Regions from separate parts of the Homo sapiens genome. Here region 1 is linked to region 2. The links come from fine-mapping of genetic effects on gene expression. A gene starts in region 2. The other region holds a variant in brackets. All regions are shown on one strand. Distances are between the middles of the regions.

Region 1 (2,904 bases), 28 kb before region 2:
CTGCCCTGCAGTCTTTTATGTGGTAAAAGACTGAACAGAGCCAGCTTTGCCTGCGTTTACCCTTTCTCAGCCCAGATGAGGAAACGCACAAGTTTTTAAAAAGAAAAAAGGATAACTACCATCAAATCCTATCAGCACTCCCAGGAGCACCTGCCCTGCCTCCTTGGATGAGACAATGGACCAGTGGGGAGAGTTCTAAGCAGCCGAAGCTGTATGCGGTCCCTGCAGGGCCAAGCAGGCACCCAGGGGTCCAGAGCTCATGGCCCATGGCCACTCCCCAGTGCTGCCAACAGACAAAACCAGGTGTGCTGAGCACGACAGGTGCTGGGCCCACCTGATTCAGTGCAGCCAGCCCCCATCGCTCACCTCATTTGGTTCTCCTTTTCTAGGGCCCCAGAGTTCTTTTTTTCTGACTCGTCTACCCCCTCTGAGGTTTCCACTTCCGCTGACATTGCTGCTGGGTGTGGTTCTTGCTGCTCTCGCTCCTCTGGTCCTGCAGAGACACAAGGAGCTGGTGATGTGGCACCCACGGCAGTCACTTCCCCAAATACCTGTCGGTTCTGCTTTCCTCAGAGCGAATGTAACCAAGGTGACACCCACACACCCCAGGATTGTTTTCTTTAAAATAAAGCTCTGCCATTACTGGGACCATAGTGGAATATGGAAAAAATCTGAATATGAACAATGTATTAGGTAATAGCATTGTATTGACATTAAGCTTGCTGGTTTTTAAAAATAATTGTACTGCGATTATATAAGAGAATGTCTTTGTTCCTAAGAAATACACACTGGGGTATTCAGAAGTAAAGGTACACTGCCTGCAACTCCCTGTCAGATGGTTCAGAAGACAGTGTGTGTGCATGTGCATATGCTGCAGGGTGGGGGACACTGGCAAGTCAGAAAAGCAAACAAGGCAAAATCCTAGCAGTGAATCTGGGGAAGAGGTATGAGAGTTCTTTGTACTATTCTTACCATTTTTCTGTATGCTTAAAACTGTATCAAGGCAGGGCACAGTGGCTCATGCCTGTAATCCCAGCACTTTGGGAGGCCGAGGCAGACTGGAGTTTGAGACTAGCCTGGTTAACATGGTGAAACCCTGTCTCTACTAAAAATACAAAAAATAGCCGGGCATGGTGGTGCACACTTGTAATCCCAGCTACTCGGGAGGCTCAGGCAGGAGAATCTCTTGAGCCCAGGAGGCAGAGGTTGCAGTGAGCCGAGATCACGCCGTTGCACTCCAGCCTGGGCAACAAGAGCGAAACTGTCTTAAAAAAAAAAAAAAAAAAAAAAAAAAGACCGTATCAAAATTAAAAGTTAGGCCAGACACGGTGGCTCATGCCTGTAATCCCACCACTTTGGGAGGCCAAGGTGGGTGGATCACCTGAGGTTAGGAGTTTAAGACCAGCCTGACCAACATGGAGAAACCCTGTTTCTACTAAAAATGCAAAATTAGCCGGATGTGGTGGCGCGTGCCTGTAATCCCAGCTACTCAGGA[G/A]GCTGAGGCAGGAGAATCACTTGAACCTACGAAGCAGAAGTTGCAGTGAGCCAAGATCGCGCCACTGCACTCCAGCCTGGGCAATAAGAGTGAAACTCTGTCCAAAAAAAAAAAAAAAAAAAAAAAATTGAAAGTTACCAAAAACAAAGAAAACCTCAAAAACCTTAGGGAAACAAAAAGCTTGGCAAGCAACGCACAGTTCCACCCCTCTGCAAGCGTGCTGAGGCCAGTTCATCCTACCTGTGAGAGGCTGGGTGCCTTGTGCAGAAGGCAGCCTACAGGAGTTACCAAAAAAGCAGACTGTCCCTAGCCTACTCAGGACTTTGCTAGGCTGAAGGAAATATTAAGTTGGCCAATCAATTCCCATTGCCTGCTGCAAATGCTGAGCCTTTGTCAGCCAGGGAAACACAGTCCCATAACAAGGCAAGCTCATCCTCCATCCCTCGGGGCTTCTGCTCAGGCAATGTAAGGCGCAGCCCATTTGGGGAATCTTCCACATGAATAGCAGCACAGTAGCACCGACAACTAATAAAGTAACTCACAAAGACAGAACTGGGGCCAAATCAGGCCAAACTGGGCCAAGGAAAAAGAACTTATTTACTGAGCATTTTCTATGTGCTCTACCCAGAAACAGGTGTCAAGAAGAACACAGAAGTGTTAAGAAATGGTCCTTAAAAGGCCCAAGGCACATATCCTTCCTGAGTTTTCTCTAGATACCTAGTTACATTTTTGTTATCTTTTAGGATATTATAGTACATGGTTTGCTCACTGAGGTCTTTTTGAACCATCTCTCTCACCTTTAGATTTAGCATCTCTACTGGGATTATTTTAGGAAGTCAAGCAATAACTCATATAGCACAATGCCTACCATGTGATAAGCACTCAATGAATGTTACATCATGATCATACTTTATTTTGACTGAGGCTTAGTGATGTCTGAGAACACTCAGAAAATAAACATCGGGATGTACAGAAAAATGGAACCTTCTCTTGACTCCAAATCAGAGACACTCTACTCTGCAATAATGCTGATGAACTGTACGATGCACAGCACAGTCTAGAAGAATGTGAAAGCAGGCAGGTATTACATGCAGGGAAGAGTATGCAGAGGGCTTCCTGGGGCAGGACCCTCAACACAGACAGGATTTGGGGCAGGGCTGGGGGAGGGCCTCCAGATCAAGGGAATATTATGAACAAAGCCAGAAATGGGTAGTTCACAGAGATAGCATAAGGCTGCCCAGCTGTGCGTCCACTTACCAAGGGGCAAAAACAGGCATTGCAAGCTGTAGAATAAGCCTCACATGGGCCTTCAGACCTTGATTTATAAATGTTTTCTTTTTTTTTTTTGGTAAAAGTACAGCTTTGCTAGCCGGGCGCGGTGGCTCACGCCTGTAATCCCAACACTTTGG
Region 2 (2,904 bases):
AGGCTGGAGTGCAGTGATGCGATCTCAGCTCACTGCAATCTCCACTTCGTGGGCTCAAGTGATCCTCCAACCTCAAACTCCCCAGTAGCTGGGATTACAGACACGCGCCACCCCGCCCGTTTAACTTTTTTGTATTTTTAGTAGAGACGGGGTTTCACCATGTTGGCCAGGCTGATCTCGAACTCCTGACCTCAGGTGATCCGCCTGCCTCGGCCTCCCAAAGTGCTGGGATTACAGGAGTGAGCCACTGCACCGGCCAGCGTTTCTTTCTTCAATCACACTCCACCTTGTCTGGTTTGTAGCGCCATCAACAAAACACAGTACGTAAGGATGGACAGCCACAGGCCACGACAACCGGCTCATCAGAAGCGATTTTTTTTTTTTTTTTTTTTTTTTTTAGATGGAGTCTTGCTCTGTCGCCCAGGCTGGAGTGCAATGGCGTGATCTCGGCTCACTGCAACCTCTGCCTCCCGGGTTCAAGCGATTCTCCTGCCTCAGCCTCCTAAGTAGCTGGAGCTACAGGCTCACGTTACCATGCCCGGCTGATTTTTGTATTTTTAGTAGAGACGGGGTTTCACTATGTTGGCCAGGCTGGTCTCGGACTCCTGACCTCAAGCAATCCGCCCGCCCTGGCCTCCCAAAGTGCTGGAATTACAGGCGTGAGCCACCGACCCGGCCCAGACGCGATTTAAATGGCATGACACAGGCAGGCCTCGTGCAAAGACTGCAAGGAGGTCCCGGCAGCTTTTGCAGGGCAATTAATCCACCCAGAGCACTGCGCTCAGAAAGTAATAGGTAAACCCGCGTCCGGACTAACCGGCTGCCCCCACACTTGATCCCTCCCAGTCCGACTCTGCTCCAGGGCGTACCAGGGTTCACTCGTGAAGTCACGACACCCACTCAAGGGGCACTTCCTATAGAGATAAGGGCATTAGAGGAAGGGCAGAGCCCCGGTCAATGCCAACAGCCCGGGAAACAGCCAAGCCGGGCTCCAATCTCTGCCGGCATCCCCTGTCTGCACCGCCGACGCCCCCAGCTACGACCCCGGGGGTCACCTCGCCCAGCATAGCCGTGACGCTGGGAGAGGGTGGGCCCAACGGGGACGCCAAAGAGAGCCATTCAGGCCTCCCCGCGCCCCCGGGGAGACGACTTCTGGAGAGCGGCGTCCGCGGTTTCGCCCTCCCCTGACAGCCCCTCCACGCCCTTCTTCGTCCTTCTGCCCGGCCTCACCCAGCTTCCGGCCGCCCCCGGCCGGGTCTCCCCTCAGACCGGCGCAGGGGACCCAAAGGGCTGTGGCCCGGCCAAGCCCAGGTCCGAAGGCCTGGACCGAGGCAGGGCCCGCGAAGGACGCAGCGCGGTCCGAGAAGCCGGGCGGAAGGAAGGCCCCGGGAGGGCGCGGACAGCTCACCTGCCGCAGGTCGCTGTCGCCTGTCCGCCAGCCTCCAGTCAGCGTGCCCGTCAGCGACTCCCTCAGGCGCCGCAGTCCCTGCAGCCCAGCGGACTGGCGCGAGGCCGGCGCAACGTGGGCACGCAGCGCGGGGCGGGGCCTAGAGATGACACGCCCCTTGTAGCTGACACGCCCTTGCCGGGGGCGGGAAGCGGAGTATGTGGCTTTCCCCAGGTCTCTGGAGGTTGCAGGCTCAGGCTCTGCTCAGCGGGGTAAGTAGGCGTGCTTCGGCAGGAACACTAGTGTTCACAAGAGCCGAGGTGTGTGAGGGTGCCTCAGGGTTGAGCACTTTTCTTCCCCAGTGTGGTTTAATCCTTGTACATCCACTCAGTGATGTAAGAAATAGGGTTGTCAACCGTGGCACCACCCACTTGGTCACTTGCCAATGCAATCTGCGAAACTGAGTCTCAACTCTGACACCTCGGTTACCAGTCTTGTATCTGATCTCCCTGTTGCATTATTCGCATTCTTCAAACAGCGGCCAGAATGACAGAATGATTTTTCTTTTTTTGAGACCGAGTTTTGCTCGTCGCCCAGGCTGGAGTGCAATGACGTGATCTCGGCTCACTGCAACCCCCTTCTCCCGGGTTCAAGCGATTCTCCTGCCTTAACCTCCCGAATAGCTGGGATTACAAGCGCCTGCCACCACGCCCGGCTAATTTTTGTATTTTTAGTAGAGACGGGGGTTTCACCATGTTGGCCAGGCTGGTCTCGAACTCCTGAGCTCAGGTGATCCACCCGCCTCGGCCTCCCAAATCACTGCAATTACAGGCCACCGCACCCAGCCCAGAGTCATTTTTTAGTTTTACTGAACACAAAGAAATTACTGAAATCGTGGGCCGGGTGTGGTGGCTCATGTCTGTAATCCCAGCACTTTGGGAGCCTGAGGCGGGAAGATCACTTGAGGTCAGCAGTTCGAGACCAGCCTGGCCAGCATGTTGAAACCCCGTCTCTACCAAAAATACAAAAAAATTTTAGCCGGGCATGGTGGCTCCTGCCTGTAATCCCAGCTACTCAGGAAACTGAGGCAGGAGAATCACTTGAACCCAAGAGGCGGAAGTTGCAGTGAGCCAAGATCGCACCACCACTGCACTCCAGCCTGGGCCACAGAGCAAGACTCCACCTTGAAAACAAAAAACAAAAACAAAAAAAAACTGAAATCAGTGCAAGTAGCAGCAACTTCAGAAGTGAGTTAGGGCTGGGCACGGTGGCTCCCACCTGTACTCCCAGCACTTTGGGAGGCTGAGGTGGGTGGATCACTTTAAGTCAGGAGTTCGAGACCTGCCTGGTCAACCTGGTGAAACCCCGTCTCTACTAAAAAATACAAAAATTAGCCGGGCTTGGTGGCACATGCTTGTAATCCCAGCTACTCGGGAGGCTGAGGCAGGAGAATCTCTTGAACCCGGGGGGCGGAGGTTGCAGTAAGCCGAGATCGCGCCACTGCACACCAGCCTGGG

What was found.
Region 1: its variant is fine-mapped to the expression of HMOX2 in whole blood (TOPMed, PIP 0.92).

What each region holds. Positions count from the first base shown.
Region 1 is chr16:4,503,073-4,505,976 of GRCh38, reverse strand. HMOX2 (heme oxygenase 2) reads right to left here. Exons shown (of 6, transcript NM_002134.4): 2 at 367-493. The coding sequence starts at 452. Among named protein-coding and RNA genes, the nearest start is that of HMOX2, 28 kb to the right of the region's middle. The variant G/A (reference allele first, on the strand shown) is at 1,496.
Region 2 is chr16:4,474,992-4,477,895 of GRCh38, reverse strand. HMOX2 (heme oxygenase 2) reads right to left here and starts at 1,498. Exons shown (of 6, transcript NM_002134.4): 1 at 1,409-1,498. It also overlaps a transcript of NMRAL1 not described here. RefSeq lists an enhancer at 1,201-1,702.